Homo sapiens: one gene and its partners. The protein of the gene in region 1 purifies or fractionates together with the protein of each later gene. This does not show direct contact. Each region holds a gene or a part of one and is shown on either strand. Other genes may lie near its edges.

Region 1 (3,500 bases):
ATATCATGCTTATGCTTTATGTCTTCATAGCTTAGCTCCCACTTAAGTGAGAACATACAATATTTGGCTTTCCATTCCTGAGTTACCTCACTTCGAATAATGGCGTCCAGCTCCATCCAAGTTGCTGCAAAAGATATCATATCATTTCTTTTTATGGCTGAGTAGTATTCCATGGTGTATATATATACCACATTTTTTTATCCACTCGTTGATTGATGGGCACTTAAGTTGGTTCCATATTTTGGCCATTGTGAATTGCGCTGCTATAAACATACCTGTGCAGTTGTGTTTTTCATATGATGACTTATTTTCCTTTCAGTAGCTAGCCAGGAGTGAGATTGCTGGATCCAATGCTACTTTTAGTTCTTTAAGGATTCTCCATACTGTTTTCCATAGTGGTTGTACTGATTTACATTCTCGCCAGCAGTGTAAAAGTGTTCCCTTTCACCACATCCATGCCAACATCTGTTGTTTTTTGACATTTTAATTATAGCCATTCTTGCAGCAGTAAGGTGGTATCTCATTGTGGTTTTAATTTGCATTTCCCTGATGATTAGTGATGTTGAACATTTAGAAATAGTAATTTAAAGCAGTCCTTAATAATACTTTTGAAAATGAAACAGTTGTTCCACATTAAGACATTTATTTAAAAAACTTACATTTTGTAACACTCAAAAACATTTGCTCTCCTGATTTTAATTTTTCCATAGTGCATGTACATATAGTGACACTTTACTTATGTGGAAGTAACTTACATGCTAACTCAGGACAGCCAAGATCCCCAAATTATGCTAAAATGTTGCCTGGGCAGAAACATAGGTGTTAAAAATGTGTATACACAGCCGGGCACGGTGGCTCACGCCTGTAATCCCAGCACTTTGGGGAGGCCGAGGCGGGCGGATCACGAGGTCCGGAGAATGGCGTGAACCTGGGAGGCGGAGCTTACAGCGAGCTGAGATCGTGCCACTGGACTCCAGCCTGGGCGGCAGAGTGAGACTCCGTTTCAAAAAACAAAAGAAAAAAAAAATGTGTGTACACTTAACACTTACCAGAAAGCTCCTTGGGTCCTCTCTAAGGGCCCAACATATTATTTCAGCAAATTTTGCTTATAGTTTTCCCATCATTATTAGCAGATTAATAGCAAATTAGAAAGGGTGAGGGACAAGAATAGGCTATGGAAGATAGGGAGGTAAGAAATAGTGAGATATGGTAGAGAAGAGACAGAAAATGCGGGCAAAGCAGAGGAAGACTTCAAAGAGATTACTAGCCTGAGGTAAGAGTAGGGGTTTAGAGTAGAGGCAGACACTGTGCAATTCGAATAAGCACAGCACTGTGTTTTACAGCACATTTTTTGGAGCCAGACTACCTAAATTCAAGGCCCAACTTCACTTTTTGCTAACTGGATGGTCTTGAACAGGTTATTTACCTGTGTATGCCTCAAGTTCATCTGTATAATATGGATAAGAGTACTTATAAGATTCTCATAGGGACTAAATGGGATAATGCATGCAAAGAACTTAGAGTAGTATCTAATGTTATGTGTTCCATAACTATAAGCTATTATGTTTATTTATAGCACAATAATAAATTTTACCATTTACTGTACCAAGAATTATCCAATACTTAGACTCTTGAAGTGTTTCATTTTAAAGTATGATAGAAATCAGTGTTTTAAAATATTTTAAATTTTAATATTTGCCTTGTACAGTATGCTATAGATCATATTTAAACTTCTAAGAGGTTTATTAAATGCATTTTTTATTAATCCTCTCTTACATAACCATATGTGGTTGAAGTTAGGCATTAAAATTCTTTACACACTACTACACCAAGGCTAGATTTTTGCTTAATCTGAACCTGTCCACTCTCTACTGAGTCCTTGAAAGCAGTGTTTTTCATGTCTGGCTTAAGGCACAGAAGCCTAGTAACCAAAAGAAAAGTTGAGGACCAGTGTGGTAGGCCCATTTTTTTAATGTATTTTTTTTCTCTTTTTCCTTTTCTGAATTTAATTTATAATTGACACAAAAATTGTATATATTTATTATGAACAAGGTATTTTGAAATATGTATACATTGTGGAATAGCTAAATCAAGCTAATTAACATATGCATTACCTCACATACTTATCATTTAGGTGTGTGGAATAGAACACCTACAAACTATTCTTAGAAATTTTCACAATTGGTATGCCCATTTGAAGGCCTTTTACACCATCTTTGTGTGCTTTTCAGTGGCCATGTACAAGGAGCCATCACTGCACGATCTCACGGAGTTCTCCCGATCTGGAAGCGGGACCCCAACCAAGAGCAGAAGTGTCTCTGGCGTGCTGAACGGAGGCAAATCCATGAGCCACAATGAATCAACGTAGCCAGTGAGGGCAAAAGAAGGGCTCTGTAACAGAACCTTACCTCCAGGTGCTGTTGAATTCTTCTAGCAGTCCTTCACCCAAAAGTTCAAATTTGTCAGTGACATTTACCAAACAAACAGGCAGAGTTCACTATTCTATCTGCCATTAGACCTTCTTATCATCCATACTAAAGCCCCATTATTTAGATTGAGCTTGTGCATAAGAATGCCAAGCATTTTAGTGAACTAAATCTGAGAGAAGGACTGCCAAATTTTCTCATGATCTCACCTATACTTTGGGGATGATAATCCAAAAGTATTTCACAGCACTAATGCTGATCAAAATTTGCTCTCCCACCAAGAAAATGTAAAAGACCACAATTGTTCTTCAAAAACAAACAAAACAAAACAAAACAAAATTAACTGCTTAAATGTTTTGTCGGGGCAAACAAAATTATGTGAATTGTGTTGTTTTCTTGGCTTGATGTTTTCTATCTACGCTTGATTCACATGTACTCTTTTCTTTGGCATAGTGCAACTTTATGATTTCTGAAATTCAATGGTTCTATTGACTTTTTGCGTCACTTAATCCAAATCAACCAAATTCAGGGTTGAATCTGAATTGGCTTCTCAGGCTCAAGGTAACAGTGTTCTTGTGGTTTGACCAATTGTTTTTCTTTCTTTTTTTTTTTTTTTAGATTTGTGGTATTCTGGTCAAGTTATTGTGCTGTACTTTGTGCGTAGAAATTGAGTTGTATTGTCAACCCCAGTCAGTAAAGAGAACTTCAAAAAATTATCCTCAAGTGTAGATTTCTCTTAATTCCATTTGTGTATCATGTTAAACTATTGTTGTGGCTTCTTGTGTAAAGACAGGAACTGTGGAACTGTGATGTTGTCTTTTGTGTTGTTAAAATAAGAAATGTCTTATCTGTATATGTATGAGTCTTCCTGTCATTGTATTTGGCACATGAATATTGTGTACAAGGAATTGTTAAGACTGGTTTTCCCTCAACAACATATATTATACTTGCTACTGGAAAAGTGTTTAAGACTTAGCTAGGTTTCCATTTAGATCTTCATATCTGTTGCATGGAAGAAAGTTGGGTTCTTGGCATAGAGTTGCATGATATGTAAGATTTTGTGCATTCATAATT
Region 2 (3,500 bases), on another chromosome or scaffold:
CTAAGAAAATATTTTGTAGTTTGATCAAAAATGGTTCTGGATAAATTGCCCAATCTTCCCATGCTCTGAAGCAAGTCATTACCCGTTGCTAAAGAAACAGGAAACAGACAACAAACTTTTATTTTGGGCTATATGTCTCAAATTTCAGTTCATGAGAATGATCATCAAGATTTGCTAAATTTGCCTTTAAACTGATGTTTTTTTAAACTTTAAAGAAAATAACTATATATCATTACCATATTTTTTAAAAAAATCAATGTCACCTTCTAATTAAAAGGAAAAAAACCCCTAAAAATAAATATAATGAAAAATAAACAGTAACTATTTGCTCTTTACCACCTAAGGTCAGCTCCCATACCATTAGTACTACCCATGAGCCACATTCCAGAAACACTTACATAGAAACTTACTAAAACTGGAAACCAAAGTAGCCAAGTTTTGACCTGAATCCCTTATGGTCCAATAAAGTACTTCCTAATTCTGGCTAATACTTTACTCTGTATCTTCCTGAAACTTGTCTTTAAATTCTAACTTATGGTCAAAATTTAAGGTCAAAAACTTTTAAAATGGGAGTTGTCTGAATGCCCTAAATGGTGGCGTCACTGGGCATCTTCCGAAACTAAAAATTTTTCTTAAAAAAGTCTTCTTCCCATGAAAGCATATTTACTTATTCAATTATAAGTGAAGTACTACACTTGGCTTTTCTTAACACTGGTCTAGAGCTTAAGAGGTTATAAAAAAATTGGTAACAGAATAGACTTTCTAAACATGATTAAAATGTATGTCTTTAATCCAGCCAAATAGTATATACCATTACAAAACAAGTGATTCTTCTGTATGTTTTATGAAAAAAGACTAACATTTATAATTTTTAAACAATATTTAAAACTAAAATTAAACCTGACAAAATAGTATCTTTTAAATTTTTGATTTGATAAAAACAAAAACGACAGAATTTTAAAACAGTAACTTCTGTAACATCTAAGTTTTAAATTTATGTCTCATACTTGTCTTATGCACTTTTCTAGCCCTTCAATGCCCTCCCCCCACCCATTTAAAACACTAGGGCAAAAATAGTAAAACAATAAACGTACCTTAAAGTTTTCAGATTGTAAATGGCCTTGAATTGTACGATAGGTGGCATTGAGGTCTGAAAATATCTGACATAACTTTGTTTCAAAACTGAAATTCAAATAACACATTCTTTAAAATAAAATGTTTAAAATTCCTTTCCCTTTTAGCATGCCAGCCAATGAAAACCCCTCCTGAACTTAAAATACTTACAAATCAAGAAATTATTAAAAATCAAAAACTAGGTGTTTAAACTCTAAAACCGTAACTGAATTGCTTGAACTCTTATTACTCTGAATTTTTCTCCTACAAACTCCCCAACAGTCCCTACTAGTTCCCTTTACGAGCAAGAAACGTTATATCTAGGATATGCTGAACCATCTCGTCCAATTTCTTTATTTTATAAAACAGAAAACTTAGAAAAGTGACTCGTCCAAGGCAAAAAAACTAATAGCAGACCTAAGAGTAGGATCCAGCTCTCTAAATTTCTTTTCAGAGCAACATCCTAGGGAAAAGCTTCCCTTTGCCTAATTCATAAAATAAACACAGAAAGAGAGCTCTGGGGAACAGAGGAAAAGTTATACTTTTTTTTTTTTGAGATGGAGTTTTGCTCGTCACCCAAGCTAGAGGACAATGGTGCCATCTCGGCTCACTGCAACCTCCGCCTCCCGGGTTCAAGCGATTCTCCTGCCTCAGCTTCCCGAGTAGCTGGGATTACAGAGGCACACCACCACGCCCAGCTAATCTTTGTATTTTTACTAGAGATGGGGTTTCACCACGTTGGCCAGGGTGGTCTCGAACTTCTGACCTCAGGTAATCAGCCCTTCTTGGCCTCCCAAAGTGCTGAGATTACAGGCGTGAGCCACTGTGCCCAGCTGAATTATACATTAATTATAATACAGCAACGTAACTTCCTTTTGCCTTAGGAAACATTTACAATGAACTAAAATCAATATGCTGAGGATCAGAAGAGAACACAGATTCTATAGTTAATAGTATGTCTTTGGTCTCTTATGTTTGCCAGTATATACACTGTTTCTATTTATTATATGAATAGCTAGATATGCAATAAAGTTCTCTTTAACACCTATTTGTTATACTGTCAATAGCTAAGAAAGTGATATGATATAAAATCTTTCCAAAAAATTGGTAATTTAGCTTAAGTGTAAGCCAATTTTTTAAAAAATTCTACAAACCATTAAGAAATTCAAATTAGTCTTCCCTCAGTATCCATGGGGGGACTGGTTCCAAGACCTCCCATGGACACCAAAATCCACAGATGCTCAAGTTCCTGATTGAAAATGGCATAATATTCACCTGTAACCTATCCTCATCCTCCCATCTGTTAAATCATCTCTAGGTTACTTACAATACCTAATACAATGTAAATGCTATGTAGAGTTTTCATACTATATTGTTTAGAAAATGACAAGGAAAAAAGTCTGTACAGGTTCGGTACAGATACAATTTTTCTTCTCAAATATTTTCAATTCATGGTTGGTTGAATTCATGGATAAGGAACCCACAGACATGGAGGGCTGACTGTACTTCTTATTCTTGCAGGATGTTAACAAAACAATCCTCTTTTCTGAACTCCTTACCCTTAAATACTTTATTTCAGGAATATCAGTTATATCATTATACTTACAATTTTCTATAATATGAAGCATTAGCAACTTTGGCTGAAGAGTTGTACAAAACATCAGAAACCAAATATAATCTGGCAATCTATAATATCAAAAGATAACACAAAATAGGTTAATATAAGGCTAATGTTTAGCTATAATTTAATTATGGCTACTAATTAGAAGAGTTATATGAAGCTCAGTATCACCACAACTATGACTCTGGCAGAGATGAAATTTGTTAACCCATTTACATTTCAACTTGTTTGTTAACTTGTATGTTAATGAACCTAAATTTCCAAGCAGAAATAACATAAGACTGCATGGGAAAAATCTCATCAGTCAAGTGCTTTGTGCAAAAAGGAAACCAATTCTAATCCCAAAAGACGTCAACTATCTCCCCTTTTCTTAAAATTCATTCCCATACCTTTTTAGGAAGGGGTGTCTTTAAGATGGACAACGACTCAGTAATGCAATCCACTATTTCTTCAGCAGCTTCAGCATTATTAAGACAGAAAACCATTGCATCTCCAATATCATTTTTCCTTGGAGTTAATCCCCGCAAGATTTCTTCCAATTTATCCCTCTGTCTGAACATAAATTGTTTTAACTTATAAATATTTAGATACAATTTCAAATGCCATTGTAGCTTTTGCTCACAAACTAATTTCTTTAAAACCTACTCACATAAAATAATTCTGAAGACTGTAATACATTCAGTCTGATTTGTGTTGTGTCCCCCAAAATTGTTACAATTTTTTGAAGAATTTATATAAGAATACTCTGTAGAATAAGATTCCAATT
Region 3 (3,500 bases), on another chromosome or scaffold:
CTTTAATATACTCTAGTGGGGAAAGCATGTTATGGGGAATATGTAAAACAAGGAGACTGCTGAAACACAGGAACAGATACGTGGAGGTTCATTTTACTTTTTTCTCTCCACTTTTAAGATTGTATAGCTCAACATTCTCTAAAAAGCTACCGTCCTACACAGAAGTCTTTCTTTTTTTCTTTTTTGCTCAACTAACCAAGGTACAAACATGGCTACGACCTGGCAGAACCATGCCATACCAAAGCTGTATGTCCTGCAGAACTCACCTGCTCGGACGATAATTGCTGCTTCTCCTGCTTCCACTGGTTTATCTGTGGCTTTGGCTTTTTGGGATGGACGGGCTTCACTTTGCCTTTGTCCCGCAACCTGAAATAACATGGCTGAGTGTCACCTTGAGTCCTTCTTCTAATTTGACACCCCTAGGTTCTCTTTGTACACTGGCCCTTCCCAAGCCCATGATAAGTGAAGTCATTCTAAAAAGGGATACTGCAACAGACCCTCTGAAAGCTCAACATTTGTATACTTAGGACTGCTTGATGCCAGGAGTTTGAGACCAGCCTATGCAACATAGCAATCCCCCGTCTCTACTACAACGAAATTAAAAAGTCCCAGCTACTCAGGAGGCTGAGGAAGGTGGATTGAGTCCAGGAGTTGAGGTTACAGTGCGCTATGATCATGCCACTGCACTCTAGCCTGGGCAACAGAGCAAGACCCTGTGACATGGTTTGGATCTGTGTCCTTGCTCAAATCTCACGTTGAATTGTAATCCCCAGTGTTGAAGGCTGGGCCTGGTGGGAGGTGACTGGATCATGGGGATGACTCCTTCATGAATGGTTTAGCGCCATCCCCTCAGTGCTGTTCTCGTGACGGTGAATGAGTTACCACAAGATCTGGTTGTTTAAAACACTCCCCCCTGCTCCTGGCCATGTGATGTGCCAGCTCCCACTTCACCTTCCACTATGATTAAGTTTCCTGAGGCCTCCCTAGAAGATGAGCAGCTGCTGTCATGCTTCCTGTACAGCCTGTGGAACCATGAGCCAATTAAGCCTCTTTTCTTTTCTTTTTTTTTTTTGAGACGGAGTCTCGCTCTTTCGCCCAGGCCAGAGTGCAGTGGCGTGATCTCGGCTCACTGCAAGCTCCGCCTCCCGGGTTCACGCCATTCTCCTGCCTCAGCCTCCCCAGTAGCTGGGACTACAGGCGCCCGCCACCGCACCCAGCTAATTTTTTGTATTTTTAGTAGAGACGGGGTTTCAGCATGTTAACCAGGATGGTCTCGATCTCCTGACCTCGTGATCCACCCGCCTCGGCCTCCCAAAGTGCTGGGATTACAGGCGTGAGCCACCGCGCCCAGCCAAGCCTCTTTTCTTTATAAATTACCCAGTCTCAGGTATTTCTTTATAGCAGTGGAAGAACTGAATAATACACTGTCTCTAAAAATAAAATAAATAAATAAATAAAACCCCATGGATATCTCAAAAACCTTCATTTATTTAACAAATATTTTGTAAAGATTTACTTTTGTAGAGCACTAATCTGCTGTCCCAAACAGAAACTACAACTGAACCTCAAGTATGTGGTCTCAGCTGGCAGAGATGGCCATCTGGACAAGAGGAAGCTCTTCAAAAGAGGAGAAAAGGGGCACAAAAGCCTGCCCTAGGAGGCCCCTCTGCCATTGATCTAAGAGTGACATCTCTGATGGTGTTGAAGACTCGCGTGTTAACCCCATGTGTGGGAATACATAGCACCAAACATCCTTTTCAACCAAACAAATGCCACAAAGAGAAAATAACTCAGCAAAAACAAACCCGCTTAGAACCCACCCACTGTTCTGTGCTTCTGCCCTCCTGCATCTCACCTGATTTTGGGGCCTCGGTGTGAGGGGAGCGCCAGGACCTTTCTTCTCTTCTTTCCATCAGGCAGCTCCACCTGCTCCACTTCAGCCTTGGTCTGGAACCCGGTCCATGAGGTAGAGCCCGCCTTTCTCTTCTGCTCTGGGGGCACCTTGCTTTGTTCCTCTGTGTGGTGTTGAGCTGCCTTCTGTTGCTGGTCTTTTGCAGGCTCTGGTTGCCCCTTCTGAGGCTCACCAGTTGCAGGCTTGGATCTCATTTTTTGCTGCATAAAACAAGAAAATGCCATCTGGTTTCTGGATGAGCTTTGTTTGCTGCAAATACTCAGCAGAAGATGAGCTTTATGTGAGCTAGATGAAAGAAGAGGAATTCTTCCCCCACACAATTGGAGACTAGAGGAAAGTGAATACATGTAGATCACAAGCCCTGCCACAGTAACAGATGGTTACTGGGTGGGGGGCACAAAATAACCATTCCCCTTCCCATAACACAGAAATAAGGGAGAGTGCATGCCCAAAATTCAAAAGTCAGTAGGTGGGACAATTATCAAAGGTGTAACCTATGTAGAAGGAGAATACAAGAAGAAAGCAAGCAACAGAAAAGATAATGAAGTAATAAGGGCTGAGAATTTTTCAAAACTAATGACAGTCACTAAACCACAGATCTAGGAACTCAGAGAAGACCAAATAAGATAAATACTAAACAATTTACAACCAGTCATATCATAGACAAACTGCAGAAAATCAAAGATAAAATCTTGAAAGAAGCCAGACAGGGGAAAAATTTTACCTATAGAGGAACAAGGATGAGATTACATCAAATCTCTCTCTCTTTTGTTTTTAATAGGCACCCTCCCAAACCAGAGTAGATTGAGAGAGATTTCCAAGACTTCTCTTCAGAAACCATGTAAGCAAGAAGGGAGTGAAGTGAGATATTTAATATTTAAATTTTTAAAAGAAAAAAAAATCACCAACCTACAATCCTGTATCCGATAAACTTATCCTTCAAAAGTGAAGGAAAAGACTTACTCAGACAAAAGAAAATGGAGAGAATTTGTTGCCAGTAGACCTGTCTGCAAGAAATGCGAAATAATCTCTTCAGAGAGAAGAAAAATGACATAGGTCAGAAACTGATCGTTTTCAAGAAAGGAAGAACATCAGGAATGGAATAAATGAAGTAAAGACGACAAGAAAAAGATGCTGTGGGAAGGAAGGCATCAAGGAAGTTATAGAAGTATTTGCACTGAAGTGGAAGAAACAGAAGATTCAAGTGAAATTAATGTAATGATAAGTGTGTGTTGTTCTTCCCTTTCACCTTAGAAATCTAGATAGGTACAACGATACAATGAACATTTATTATATGCCTAGTGTGTGCCAGTCTGTTTCCAGGATACAAAAAAATAGTGTCTACCCTTCAGGACTCACAGCCAGGTGGAGATAAGAGATGCATTCACAAATAAACCAAAGTAAAAAAAACTACACAGCTTAAGGAAGTTCATGAAAATCAAGTAAAGAGGGCCTTATATCTTTTGAGAGAGGTGGAGGCATGCAACTTGAAAGAGATCATTTGATCTGCATATGCAAAGTGAGTAGAGGCATTTTTACACAGAAAGAACAGTATGAATATAAATCCAGGCAACAAATAAAGTAATTT
Region 4 (3,107 bases), on another chromosome or scaffold:
TTTAAGCTGATTTTTCACCAGAAGTATAGTTTCTGCTGCCAAAGTAAAGTATAAATGTATTTGTATATGTGTGGAAAATAAATAATTTGTGACATGTATTGGTCACTTGTGCTCTGATGGGGATTAGACCCTTTGGTTATCCACACAAATATTTATCACATTCCTGGACTTTGTTTTATACCTAAAAGGTGGACTAAAAGCAAATATTCATATGCTGAATCATACCTTTCTCATTAAATAATCAAGCCTTAAAAAATGTGACCTCAGAACCACTTTTAAAAATCATATATAATATGCTAAAAGACTGACATACACTGTTAAGCTCATATCCTCTCACTCTGCTGGAATGGTAAAGGAATTTTCTACTTTCGTTTACTTCATGTGAAAAAAGAACTCTAAGCTCCAGAGTAAAATAACTGGCTGCTATGACTTTCAAACAGTAAGAGATCTCTTTAGTTGGACTGCTGTGCTTTTTTCAAAAAATTATCATATCACAAGAATAGGAAGCAGAAAAAAACAGCTGTTTTATTCAACTATTCACAATAGAGAATATTTATAATCTAGTCACTGAAACACGCATTTCTTAGGCCACTCCTAGAATATGGGAATAGCTGTTACATAAAATACTGTTTTATAATTATATTAATAAGAAAAAGCATTTTACCTGTTCCAAGAGGGGAAAAAAGCTCCTCATTGAGTATCCTTTGTCTCTAGATCAGAATGGTAAAGTCTTGGGCCTGGTTCTTCTACCCTGGAGCAATTCTTCCCCAGTCACCCTCCAGGGAATGTCAGAAAACGTGAAGAACTTTAGAGACTAGAATCATATTCAAACTTTCCTTGAAAGTAGCTATAATAAACACTAACACCTTTTTTAAAAGGCCAAATTAGGTAACTTCTTTAGGTGGATCATCCAGCAAAAGCCAATGAACCTGAATACAAGCTATTTTTTTCTTTTCTCAAATATCTTCATAAAAATATATTAACTCAAATTTAGAATGCTTCTCATTTCCATCCACAGTATTGAAATAAAAATATTTAAAGAGTATTTAGTTATAAAAAGTAGCTAAATGGTAAAATGTCTTCTCATGGTCTTGATTTTTCTGTGCTCTATGCCCTAATTTTAATATAGCAACTGCACTTCAGTAAGATCCAGTCCAAAGATTTTTTTAAAAAACTATAATGTACGTGAAGCTTTTAAAAGGCAGCATCATCAAGAAAGTAATTTCCAAATACTGGGGAGAAAAAAAGGCTTTTGATCTCCTTGATGGAATGACATATTCAGAATAGGGGCAGAACCCTGTGCCATGCAAAGGGTCATTCTTCCTCTTCTTCCTAGACATTCTTAGGAAGCTTTCCTTGTATAAAAAGAAAAGATCCTAAGTTAACAACTCATCTTTATGTACATCTGCACACACAAATATACAAGAAAGTCCACTGACTTCATTCCTCTACTAGTGTAGTGATGTTTTCAAATATTTCGTGAAATCCAGAGGCGATTCAGTAGCAACTTCACTGGAGTATCTTTTGATTAGCTGATTTAAATCTTCATTCAAAAATGAATCCCCTTGTAAAAATTTACCCTAGGAAAATATTTAAAGTATGAGTTAGAAGTTACTTATGCTATAAGCTAAAGCCAACCTGTGAACCAAGTTGAAAATGGCAACAGCTGACACCAACACATGCAACACAATGACAGATGCTTGGTAAGGTCTTGGACATATCCTATATTGAACGAACAGTTTCATGATCATCTCTATAGAATTTCAACCTCAGAAATCCATCCTATGATGAAATCCTAAACATTAAAAAAAAAACTACCTATAAAATAATTAAGCAAACTGGAGTTAGAGTTATTGAGATACATTGGTTTCTATTTCTTCCTTTAAAAAAATGAAAAATATCCCATACCTTTATTTTGGGGTTTGAAGATTCAACAGGAGGATTGAATGTCATTTCTGCCATGCTATATGCCTCAAAAAGTTCAGTAGCAGATCTAAATCACAAACACAAAAAATGTAAAGATACCACCACATCTGTGTAACTCAAAAATAATTAGATTATACTCAGAGAATGATTCATTCTTAACCCATATATTAAGGTATAAGATTTGAAACTAACCAACCAATCCAGTCACTTAACAAATTCTAAATTCCCATTGTAATGTCAACATTATCCAACTAAATCCACCTCAGAGAGGTTTGGTATACATTTAGCAATACAGGCATAGACTCCAGAGAGAAAGCTAAGCTGAAGAACTCCAGTTCAGTGTGATCAAATCCCAACCCACTGATAATGCAACTAAGTATATCTTAGTCATGGGAGCCAGAGGACTGAAGCATGGAGTCATTCTCCACAGACTTAGAACACAGCTCAACTCTTCAGCTACTGGCCTGGATGAAAAACAAGGAAAGGCCATTCAGGACAGAATACATGTCTATACCCATGGCGTGTAAATGAATCCTTAATGATTTGGAATTAGTTCACACTCGCCAAAACACATAGGCAAGGGCCTACGAAGGTAGCAATTAGGCTCACATCCCAATACCCACTCTCCAGAAGCCCACTATGAGTCTCCTTTCTTAAGCCTTTGGGATAAGCTCATTCCTCATCCTTCTCCACAAAGGAAACATCTTTCCTTAGCAAAACTGCTAAGGAAAACATGCCATAAAATAATCATTATGAAGAGTGACAAAGAATTGTTTTCTCCTTTTTTCCTTTTAAAAAAAAAGGCTGGTGGGGTGAAGACTGGGGACAGGTGAGAAGTGTGAGGGAAGAAAAAGTAAATGGCCATTTTATTTAATAAGGCCAAAAGTTATCTCCATCCTACTCAGAAGGAAAGGGCTCATGGAAAACTGCAGAGCTCTTGCCTCATGTAGAGGAGGCAGCAACTGACTGACTACTGTCATGTAAAATACAAGCCAATGTCACCAAACCTCCCAGTATTTCAAGAAAAGCGGGAAATGTGAATTTCAGATGAATTCTTTCAATATTTAAAAGACAGCAACTAATTCAATTTTTTTCAAACTCTTGAGGCCAGAAAAATCGGCCTGGCCCACAGGTCACCAAACTATGATCTCTGAATTACAGAAACCAATGGGCTTGCAAAC
Region 5 (3,500 bases), on another chromosome or scaffold:
CAGCCCCAGAAATTTAGATGGAGCAAAAAGAAGAGCCAAGAATCAAGAAGCCAGAAACATCGCTGCCAGATGCTGCATGATCCCTTAAGAAAAATGTCACCGAGGAACTCACACAGTAGGGCGCCCTAAAGGGTGGTTCCCCACAGGAAATGGAAACAAGCCAAATCAACCTTTCTGTAGCCACTACTGGTAACTTCAACTCACACTATGATCCTGAACTACCCAGATTTCCTGCTGGCCCCTCAGAGCTAGAGTGCTGTGCCCATGTGTTATCCCCTTCAAGCACCCTAGCTCAGAGTGCTAGAACCAAGGCAAGGGACAAGGCCTCACCCACCTTGGGCCGTGCTGGGGATGGCCGAGGCCTCTTCTTCACTTCAATCCAGTTCTCAGAATCCAGGTCAGGCAGGCTGGCAGACAGGCCCTTGGGTAGTGTCTTTAGGTTGCTGACCTCCTCTGTTTTGGTTGGCACTGGGGTGACTGCACGAGGAGAGCCAGGTGCCGACTCTAAAGGGTGGAAAGGGGAAGTCCTCATCCCTCCAGTCCTCCTCCTGATGCCAGCCCTGAGGAGGACTGTTGCCCAGAGGACAAGGGCAATCTTCATGCCAGCAGGTACCTACCTGTCTCCTTTTGGTAGTGCTGACGGGGAACAAATTCAGGGCAGTTGAGAAGCTGGGAGAAATCAGTCTGTGAATAATCCACTATTGGGGGAAGAGGCCACTTTTCTGGTTCCTCCCTCCTACGAACTTTCTCATCAACGATCTCCACCACCTTGCTGTCCTTTAGGGCCTGAAGGGGAGGAGAAGGAAGAGGGGATTAAGAAGAAAATCTTGGACAGAAAGATCTTGGAAATGGTAGACAACTGGGTTCCCCTGAGCTTGGTATGAGTCCAATGCTACCAGTAATATAAGAAAATTGACACCATCTTCCACGACTGGTAGATAATGTGAGATGTTCAAACTTGTAGGAGGTACCAGCATAATAAATACACCTACCCTTTTACTCTTTGAGCCTGCAATCCTACTTCCAGTAATCTGCTCTAGAGAACACTTGCACAAACAGGGAGCAGTATGTATAATATCTGGACAAAAAGCCATTCACAGTAAAACTAGAGTAGAAAAAGAACTATAAAATACCTAACTTGCCATCGCATAGGCAATTTAAATATTTACAGCATATGCATGATGGAACACTACTCAGACATTAAAAAACTTTACAGGTCGGGCCTGGTGGCTCACGTCTATAATCCTAGCACTTTGGGAGCCCCAGGCAGGCAGATCACAAGGTCAAGAGATTGAGACCATCCTGGCCAACATGGTGAAACCCCATCTCTACTAAAAATACAAAAATTAGCTGGTTGTGGTGGCACACGCCTATAGTCCCAGCTATTCGAGAGGTTAAGCAGGAGAATCGCTTGAACCCAGGAGGTGGAGGTTGTGGTGAGCCGAGATGGTGCCACTGCACTCCAGCCTGGGCGACAGGGCGAGACTCCGTCTCAAACAAACAAACAAACAAACAAACAAAAAAACAACCAACTTTACATGTGCTGAGGTGGATAAACCCACAAAATATTAATCAAAAAAGCAGGCTGGGTACAGTGGCTCACACCTGTAATCCCAACATTTTGGGAGGTCAAGGTGGGTAGATCGCTTGAGCAAAGGAGTTCAAGACCAGCCTGAGCAAAATAGCGAGACTCTATCACTACAAATCGTAAAAAGGTGGCGCTGGCATACATCTGTGGTCCCAGCTACTTGGGAGCCTAGATGGTTGAGGTTGCAGTGAGCTTTGATAACACCACTGTACTAACTCCAGCCTGGGCAAAAGAGCAAGACCTAGTCTCAAAAAAACAACCAAAACATCCATCTATAGGAGCAGCAGTTGAAAAAACATGGAGCATTCCACACAATGGTGAACTATGCAACTGTACACAGGAATGAGGAATATCTTTCTATTATATACTGCTACTTTGCAGTTAGCTCCCAGATATATTAAGTTAAAACAAAAAAGAATTGAAGAAATGCCATGTGTTGTATATTTCCATTTACCAAGGATACAAATACATGTAGAGGCATTTGCTTTTTTCTTAAATGGAAAGGTTCTAAAAAGTTTGCCTGTAAGAGAAGAAAGGGTGTAAGTGACAGAATTTAAGTCAGACTTCTATGACTATACCATGCTGAGACTCTAGAACCACGTAAATGTTTTACACAAATGTAAAACAACTTAGAAAATTATAGGGGTAGGGAGAAAGCAATCTCTAAAACTTGGAAGCAAAATAAAACTAATATATATATCAATTTAAATGTGAAACCACACAAAGATTCTTTCAAATGACTTGAAGATACTGTATAAGTGGAAAAACTGTTTTCAGTGGTAGTGGAGGTATTGTAAGAATGTAGAGCTTGGCACAATGGCTCACGCCTGTAATCCCAACACTTTGGAAGCCGAAGTGAGAGGATGGCTCAAGCCCAGGAATTTCAGACCAGCCTGGGCAACACTGCAAGACCTCATCTCTACAAAAAATTTAAAAATTAGCCACACGTGGTGTGCACCTGTAATCCTGCTACTCAGGAGGCTGAGGCAAGAGGATTGCCTGATTTCAGGCGGTTGAGGCTGCAGTAAGCCATGATCACACCACTGCAATCTAGCCTGTGAGAGCAAGACCCTCTCTCTTTAAAAAATGTTTAAAAAAAAAAAAAAAAGACGGTAGACATACTGTGAAATAAAACAAAATGAGTAATTATGTTGGTATCATTAGGAATTAAGATTATGGGCATGGAAGAAAGCAGTAGGTAAAATAAAAGATCCACAAGTCTACGTAAAGACCCTTTAATAGAAAATACCAGAACAGGCCGGGCGCGGTAGCTCATGCCTGTAATCCCACCACTTTGGGAGGCCGAGGTGGGTGGATCACCTGAGGTCAGGAGTTCGAGACCAACCTGGCCAACATGGTGAAACCCCATCTCTACTAGAAATACAAAATTAGCTGGGTGTGGTGGTGCATGCCTGTAATACCAGCTACTTGGAAGGCTGAGGCAGGAGAATTGCTTAAACCTGGGAGGTGGAGGTTGCAGTGAGCTGAGACCATGCCACTGCACTCCAGCCTGGGCAACAAGAGTGAAACTCTGTCTCAAAAAAAAAAAAAAAAAAAAAAAAAAAAACAACAACAACAAAACAGAATAACTCCATGATGTATTTTATCTCACCAAAAAACAAAAAAATCATCTAGAAAGAATGACCAACCAAGTAGCAATAAAGCACCCCTATAACTCAGACTGGTATCTAAATACCATTTCCCAAAAGAAAGGAACTAGAATTCCTTTTAAAAGTGGCCAATTCCAGATCTGGGGCAGGAAATGTATAGGGTCCCACTGACCAAAGGTGGGACAATTTGATCCAATCCATTAACTGCAATGGACCAAAATAAATACGTTTGAGCCCATAAGCTTATAATAACAAATGATACGAAAACAAACCACCAAATCTCACTGGTCACCTATGAAACC
Region 6 (4,196 bases), on another chromosome or scaffold:
GCAAGCTCCCCTTCTGCATCTGGACAGGACCCCCCCCTTCTCCCTCAGAGCAGGCTCAGCTCAGCTGCTGACATTGCTTTCCTGATGGTCAAAAGGTCAGAACCCAGCTATGTTGTCATAGCAGAGAAGTGACCTCAGCTCTAGCGTAGAGAGATGGTCAAGGAACACCCACAGAATGGGGATCCTTCTTTTTCCTCCACCTGAGCCAGAAAAGATAACGAACCCTGCTGTCTCTTATCCTTAGCCCATTCAACATCCCTTTTCAACCTCAGCTTGAAACCCAACCCTCCCTCCCCAGGTGTCAACATTGTCAGTGCTGGGCACTCAGTCAGGACAGGCTGGGCCACTATATCCAGGAGTGTTTCTGAATGGGGAAAATTTAGGCTGGAATTAGGACTGGGAGCCAGGTGTGGTGGCATGCACCTGTAGTCCCAGCTACTCAGGAGGCTGAGGCAGGAAGATCACTTGAGCTCAGGAGTTTGATGCCAGCCTAGGCAAGATGGCAAGATCCTGTCTTAACAAAAACAAAAACAAAACGAGATTGGGGAGGTGGGTGCCCAGTCCCCGTTTCCCCTTTGGTTTCATTTGAGGTCCCTGTACTGTCTCTCCCCAGAAGGCCTTCAAGGTTAACACACAACAATGCCCTGCCCCTTGATTACTGGCCTGGGCTTACAAAGGCGAATACTCAGACAGAATCAGGAGGCACTCAGCTTAATGAAGGGGCAGGGATCTGCAGCCAGCAGATTGCCTGGCCTATATTCCTCTCCCTCGGACTCTTTCTGAATTGTCTTTAGGGTGTGGTTTGCTGCCCAGTGACAACATACATTCCTTTATATCCTGGAATGTTACATAGTCTCTCTTAGTGTCTGGCATACAGTTCTACAGTAGTTCTAGCATTTACATCACTTCAGAACTTACTAATAACATAAGGACAGGAGAAGCAGCAACGTAACAGGATGTGCCCAATCTCTCAGAAGCTTCTCTACAAGCACTACATCCAGACCAGCTTTCCGTAAGTTCCGAAACCTGGCCTGGCAAGACCTGCCTGATGTTCCGCCAGGTAAGGAGCCTCCTCAGTGCAGAGGACAGTGGCTCTCAACTGTAATCCCAGCGCTTTGGGAGGCAGAGGCAGGAGGATTGCTTGACGCCAGGGATTGGAGAGCAGCCTGGGCAGCACAGTGGGAACCCATCTCTATGGGAAGAAAAAAAAAAAACCCTCCTCAGGAGCTGTGAGGAGGGCACAAGGAGGTGGCTATTCTCCAAGCAAGTGCTAGGAAAAAACCACTAAGAACAAGCCCTGCAGCACAGATACTGGCAGCACAAACCAGCTGAGAGGAGAGGTGTTATGTTTGTTTTCTGTTTGGAGTGGGGAAAGGGAGGTTTTGACCATAAAATCCCTTTGTTAAAGTCCATCCAGGACCTCAGGGGAAAAAAATAAAAACAAAATAAAATAAAAGCTGTGTTGTTACTTAGTATGTTTCAAAAGGAAATGGGACATGCTGCACATTGCGAATGTGGGAGGTGGAGGGAGCAAGGGGAAACCTTCTGTATTTAATATGTGCCATCTGTAGCCACTCAGGCCTCCAGACTGAAGTGCTCTGTGGAGAGGACATGGTTGATCATCGGGTGATCCCCCAGCACGGCCCGGCTAGTGCTGATGCTGAAAGACAAGGCTGGAAGTCTGGGTTGTACGTCGTTTCCGAGCGCAAAGAGGCCCTGCGTTCTGGTTTCAGGGGATTCAGGGGATTCTCATCATGTGTGCCAGAGCACAGATACTAAATCTCCCTCACCCTGAGCCCAGGCCAATATCCTAACCTTTCGGCTAAAAGAAAACAGTCACAGAAAACCATTTTTGTTTCCTTAAGAAAATAAATATTTCCACGAGGTCAAGCCAAAGTACAGGGGCTGGAGACGGGGTGGGAAGTGGGGCAAACACTTTAGATGAGCACAGTAGCTCCTGCTAGCTGGGGCATCAGGGCACTCACCATGTCCCTGCACAAGATGCTCACCCACTCCACCTTCCCATCCTGGAGCTGCACAAATTGTCCCTTTCTTGAAGTTGATGCAATGTGTCTCTGTGTTAGATATGAGCTCCCAACTGGGCCCAAGGACTTGGGGTGATGGAGGCTGCAGGCTCTTGCCAAAGCCAGGTTTAAATCCCTGTTTCTATTTTACCAGCAGGGAAGAAATGAGAGTCGAGTTGAGAAAATGCTCAGTTAAGACAGTCAGTCACGGGACAGCTGTATCCTCAGGACCAGCCTGTCATCGATAAGTCCAAGCCCTGGCTACTGCTGCTGGAGAGGCAAAGGAACAATCTTGCCTTTCAGCGCCGTCGGAAAGCTCGAGATATTCTCCAGGCATTGGGTTCCTCATAGCGGTTGTACAAGGGTTCAAGACGCTGTTGCTTCTTCTGTTTGCTTAGCTTAGTTGGGTCTGAGACCTTGAAGAAGGCTGGGGCAAACTCCACAAGCCACCGAGGGTCGATGGTGGTAACTTCACGCATGTATTCCTTGGTGGTGAGCACCAGCTCATGGTACACCACCCTGAGGGGGGACAGAGATAGTACTCAAGCCTCTGGATATAGGCCCCACTCTACAGTCAACCTGGTCCCTAGTAGGCCTCAGCTGAGCTTACATTTTATACTATTACCTCTCCTGCCTGACACCTATAAGACTGCAGTCTGTTTATGACAGCCACACCCCAATACTGAAGCACCCGCACACCTCTAACCACAAGAAAGGTCTCAGGAGAATGTATTCTAGTCCTGGCTCTGGCTCTAACTAGTTAAGTGACATGGAGCCAATCACATCCCTTCTCTAATCTGTTTCTTGCTCTATAAAATGTGAGGATGTTTATTAGAATGTTTCCACAGAATTCTAGGGCTCTGAAGAGGGGCCTCACACTGCCACAAGGGATGGAGAAGGCCAAACATGCAAGGAGCCACATTTCTAACCCTTCTACTGTGATAACATGGTGGTTTTAAATCAGTTTTATATTAGGGTTCTAGATAGAGTCCAATTTTTTAAAAATGCTACTTTAAAACAAGTTTTTTTTTTTAAACTACATCACTAGGTAGTTGTTTTTTTCTTTCTTTTTTTTTTTTTTTTTGGGACGGAGTCTCACTCTGTCTCCCAGGCTGGAGTACAATGGCACAATCTCAGCTCACTGCAACCTCTGCCTCCCGGGTTCAAGCTATTCTCATGTCTCAGCCTCCCAAGTAGCTGGGATTACAGGTGCCTGCCACCACGCCTGGCTAACTTTGTATTTTTAGTAGAGACATGGTTTCACTATGTTGGTCAGGTTGGCCTGGAATTCCTGACCTCTGGTGATCCACCTGCCTCGGCCTCCCAAAGTGCTGGGATTACAGACGTGAGCCACCATGCCTAGCCCCTAGGTAGTTGGTTTTTTTTTTTTTTTTTTTTTGAGATGGAGTTTCGCTCTTGTTGCCCAGGCTGGAGTGCAATGGGTGATTTCGGCTCACTGCAACCTCCACCTCCTGGGTTCAAGCGATTGTCCTGTCTCAGCCTCCCAAGTAGCTGGGATTACAGGCATGCGCCACCATACCTGGCTAATTTTGTATTTTTAGTAGAGACAGGGTTTCTCCATGTTGGTCAGGCTGGTCTTGAACTCCCGACCTCGGCTGATCTGCCCACCTCAGCCTCCCAAAGTGCTGGGATTACAGGCATGAGCCACTGTGCCTGGCCACTACGTAGTTTTTTAAACCACAATTTTTTTTTTCAACTAGGTCTCACCCCTATGATTTTAATTCTCTCATAGGGTTTGATACATTGTGCCTAATTCAGGTTTCTGCTGCTCTAGAAAGGCAAGCAGTGTTATACTAGGACATACTGGGAGTAGTGAAGACACAATCACAAAATACCAGGAAATTTACAGGTTTTTCTCTGCCCAGAAAAGCCCCTAGACCCTGGGACATGTCCACCTACCATTCTGGCTGTCTGTTGAAGAGGGCACTGGAAGGATGGATATAGACCACCTGCTGGTCGATCAGTGTCCGGTAACCCTCCTGCGGGTCTTTCTTGGCAGCATTACGGAAGAACCCACTGCAGATGGCCTTCTGCACTCGGACTGTGGACTTGCCACAGGAAACAACATCCAGCTTGTGTCTATCAAGATAGGACAAAAGATATGAGCCCACTCAGCTTTCACAGGTCTATTTTCACAATGACAGTGCCCAA
Region 7 (3,500 bases), on another chromosome or scaffold:
CTGATTGCTTCCCTGATGCTGCTTTTGTCCTCCTTCATCCTGTTTTCCACAGGCTTTTTCTGTTGATTCTCTACCTTGCTATCCCAAACACATGTGTCACCAACCTTAGATTCAGGCATAGGATCCTCCACTTTTGGCCACTTAGATGCTGCATTTCCAACATTTTCATATTCTTCAGTTGGTTCCTCATCCTCAGTGCTCGTCTTCAAATGTGACACTAAACCAAGAAAATGAAAAGGACACCTATTCACTCTCTTAAAAAAAAACAAAAACAAACTGGAATAACAATGAACAACATTCACTTGACAAACATTTACTGACAACATACTGTGTGACAGGTACCATGTGCCATGTACCGGTTTTTAAGTACTAGGGATACAACAATGAATATGACAAAATTTCTGCCCCTGTGGAACTAATGTTAAAATGCTAGAACCCTGGATTTTCAATGGAACAATGAGCTTTTCTATTCTTGCATAACAGCTTAGCATAGGGCAGGGTGAAATGATGCACAGAACCATGGGCAACACCAATCAGTTTTTAAACAATGTCACCCAGTCATGGAAAAACAAACAAGAGGGCAGAAGAAATCTCTGAAGAAGACAGAAAAATTCATAAGTAGGACAAAAGTTAGGTAAAACTTTTTTTTATTATGAAAAGTTAGACAAAATCAGCAGAGGACAGACAAAACTAAAGAGAAAAAATTAGTACCTGGGGAGGGGTATCAGGGAGAAGGCTATGAAACCATGAAGACAGTTACTGCAGAGATGAGGAAGAAGGCAACCTGCATATTAAAATATATTATTAAACGTCTATAATTAAAATAGTATGGTCCTGGTACATAGACAGGCAAATGGAATAGAACAGGAAGTCCAGACATTGTCCCAGGTAGACACAGAAATTAATGATACAGATGATATCTGAAATTACCAGAGAAAAGATGGTCCTTTTAATAGTGTTGTAACAACTATGAAGCCATATGGAAAAAGATAAAATTAAGGCTGGGTGCAGTGGCTCACACCTGTAATCCCACCACTTTGAGAAGCTGAGGTGGGCGGATCACGAGGTCAAGAGATCGAGACCATCCTGGCCAACATGGTTAAGCCGTCTCTAGTAAAAATACAAAAATTAGCTGGGCGTGATGGCACGCACCTCTAATCCCAGCTACTTGGGAGGCTGAGGGAGGAGAATCACTTGAACCTGGGAGGCAGAGGTTGCAGTGAGCCGAGATCGTTCCACTGCACTCCAGCCTGGTGACAGAGCAAGACTCCGTCTCACAAAAAAAAAAAAAAAAAAAGATACAATTAGATCCCATTCTTCACACCATACACACATGAATAAACTCCATATGGAATAGAGCTCTAAATATAAAAAAGCTGTACAAATGCCAGAAAACATGGGTAAATGCCTCTCTGGCCTGAGTATAGAGGAAGCTTTCTAATGATGACTCATATGCAACAAAAGACTGATACATTTTCAAAAACTGAAGAAAAATAAACTACAAATCATACAGGAAAACAGGTAAAAAGATGAACAAACAATTCTTTTAAATGGTCCTTAAACATTCGACTTGATTCATAATGAGAGAAAGATAAATAAGAACTACTGTAAAACACCACTTCTCACCTGTCATATTAGCAAATGTTCAAAGCTTGACAATACACTGTTGATAAGGCTGTGGAGGAAACAGGCACTCTCATACACTGCTGGGAATGCAAACTGGCACAGCCCCTTTTAAGGGGAATTTGCCAATATCTATCAAAACTACATATGCATTTACCCAGAAGTCCTACTTTAGGAATTTATAATGAAGATACACCTCCAACAATATAAAAAACATACATGCACAGAGTGACTCATTATAGCATTAATTGTAACTGCAAAATCTGGAAACCTACATAAATCTCCAAGCACAGAAGACTGGTTAAATAAACTGGAGCATATACACAACGGAGTACTGAAAAAGGACGAGGAGCGCTTCTGAATTGATATGGAGCAATCTGTATATCCTAAAGTCAAAAGGTCAAAGTGAAAAAGAGTAATATACATGCTACGTTTCGTGTAGGAAAGAAAACAGGAAAACAAGCACGTATGTGTTTCTCTTTATAGCAACGATAAACCAGAGAACAATGAGGTTCATCACCTACAAGGGAGGAGTGTGGAGAATGGAGCAGAAGGGATGGGAGAAAGAGAGAGACTCCGAGTATATAGCCTTTTTAATAGTTTTTACTATACAAAATACATAATATTCTACATATTCAAAGAATAAAATTAAACATCAGTGAGGATGGGAAAGGAGAAAAACTGCTAAAACAAAACAAATCAACCTATTTGCATTTCCCATGAATACCACAATCGCAGGAAGAGAACAAAAAAGAAATACAGAAGTAATCCAGGCAACTTAGAAACGTATTTGACTACGTAAGTACATTCAGTCTGGGGAAAGCTGGAGGCGGGGCAGTGGGAAGAGGTACAAATAATTCAACTGTTAGCAGGTTTTCTGTAGAGGTATGAACAAAGCGATTCTGAAACAACTTTAGATGTATTAAGAACCTGAGTAAATGTGTTGATTTTGTTGGGCTCAGGGCTCTCCTAGAGAAAGGGACATAAAAATAAGCAAGAGAAGAAGGCGAAAATGAACCTTGGGATGAATTTGCAGTACTGGTGTGAACTTATGATTTCTAAATCACATATATGTGCATGCATGTATATTCAAGCCTGTATGGCTGTATGCATATATTTGCATATATTTCCTGATTTCCTAGTTCTGTTTGCTGAAAGCCCAAAAAACAAAACACTCCAGTGGTAATGAGCACATCTAGTACCCCATTCTGGGTCTACTATTACCATTATTTACTAAAAGGAACCAGAGCTCCTCAAAGAAATGGCTGATTGCAGGCTGAAAGCAGGAAACATACAAGATGAGCATCATGCTATACCAGCAAGTAAAGAGAGGCTCAAAAAAAGGGTAGGGACACGCTGCAAGACCCAGCTTGAACATCCAGTGTTCAAGCACCGTAATAACTAAGTATAGTGATACATTATAAACCACTGAAGATAGGATTTCATGAGTCTACACAGGTACAAACAGGGGAGAAAGGGAGGCCTCTTGCTTACAGCAGAATGTGAGTGCTGGTTGATAAATGTAGAAGGAATACCAGAATTGGAAAAGTCAGCACTCTGCAACTATCAGAGTAAAGACTGGATCAGGAGAGAATCATCAGTGAATTCTACGTCTAGGAGGAAATTCTGACAAGGAGCAGGATATCCGCATGGTCTTAAATATTTATAATGCTTAAATTATTTACAAGGGGGAAAAATACAAGAGTGGAGAGACAATGCCTTGGCCAGGTGTTCTAATTTAACACCTCCAGAGGGGCAGATAGACATAATATGCTTTTAGTAGGGAGAAGGACACATCACCTATGAGAATGCATTACATGAACTGAATCACCAGGTAAACCCAAAACGAACAATGTTTTCTACTAAAACAGAGGGTG

The links.
Region 2: the proteins of FGF13 (region 1) and U2SURP purify together in Homo sapiens (affinity purification with mass spectrometry; one large-scale study listed by BioGRID and IntAct). This does not show direct contact.
Region 3: the proteins of FGF13 (region 1) and RBM28 purify together in Homo sapiens (affinity purification with mass spectrometry; one large-scale study listed by BioGRID and IntAct). This does not show direct contact.
Region 4: the proteins of FGF13 (region 1) and NOC3L purify together in Homo sapiens (affinity purification with mass spectrometry; one large-scale study listed by BioGRID and IntAct). This does not show direct contact.
Region 5: the proteins of FGF13 (region 1) and LARP1 purify together in Homo sapiens (affinity purification with mass spectrometry; one large-scale study listed by BioGRID and IntAct). This does not show direct contact.
Region 6: the proteins of FGF13 (region 1) and DHX8 purify together in Homo sapiens (affinity purification with mass spectrometry; one large-scale study listed by BioGRID and IntAct). This does not show direct contact.
Region 7: the proteins of FGF13 (region 1) and ZFP62 purify together in Homo sapiens (affinity purification with mass spectrometry; one large-scale study listed by BioGRID and IntAct). This does not show direct contact.

What each region holds. Positions count from the first base shown.
Region 1 is NC_000023.11:138,631,718-138,635,217, reverse strand, and holds part of FGF13 (fibroblast growth factor 13), read left to right. Parts: intron 1-2,231; coding exon 2,232-2,368; 3' UTR 2,369-3,500. UniProt on the Homo sapiens protein: Microtubule-binding protein which directly binds tubulin and is involved in both polymerization and stabilization of microtubules.
Region 2 is NC_000003.12:143,032,570-143,036,069, reverse strand, and holds part of U2SURP (U2 snRNP-associated SURP motif-containing protein), read right to left. Parts: intron 3,287-3,500; coding exon 3,124-3,286; intron 2,800-3,123; coding exon 2,720-2,799; intron 1,183-2,719; coding exon 1,095-1,182; intron 89-1,094; coding exon 1-88.
Region 3 is NC_000007.14:128,312,909-128,316,408, forward strand, and holds part of RBM28 (RNA-binding protein 28), read right to left. Parts: intron 2,113-3,500; coding exon 1,856-2,112; intron 367-1,855; coding exon 267-366; intron 1-266. UniProt on the Homo sapiens protein: Nucleolar component of the spliceosomal ribonucleoprotein complexes.
Region 4 is NC_000010.11:94,332,726-94,335,832, forward strand, and holds the end of NOC3L (nucleolar complex protein 3 homolog), read right to left. Parts: intron 1,994-3,107; coding exon 1,909-1,993; intron 1,581-1,908; coding exon 1,452-1,580; 3' UTR 501-1,451; downstream 1-500. UniProt on the Homo sapiens protein: May be required for adipogenesis.
Region 5 is NC_000005.10:154,796,877-154,800,376, reverse strand, and holds part of LARP1 (la-related protein 1), read right to left. Parts: intron 787-3,500; coding exon 618-786; intron 505-617; coding exon 335-504; intron 1-334. UniProt on the Homo sapiens protein: RNA-binding protein that regulates the translation of specific target mRNA species downstream of the mTORC1 complex, in function of growth signals and nutrient availability.
Region 6 is NC_000017.11:43,521,975-43,526,170, reverse strand, and holds the end of DHX8 (ATP-dependent RNA helicase DHX8), read right to left. Parts: intron 4,125-4,196; coding exon 3,945-4,124; intron 2,544-3,944; coding exon 2,324-2,543; 3' UTR 501-2,323; downstream 1-500.
Region 7 is NC_000005.10:180,851,277-180,854,776, forward strand, and holds part of ZFP62 (zinc finger protein 62 homolog), read right to left. Parts: intron 785-3,500; exon of another isoform or gene 712-784; intron 218-711; coding exon 1-217. UniProt on the Homo sapiens protein: May play a role in differentiating skeletal muscle.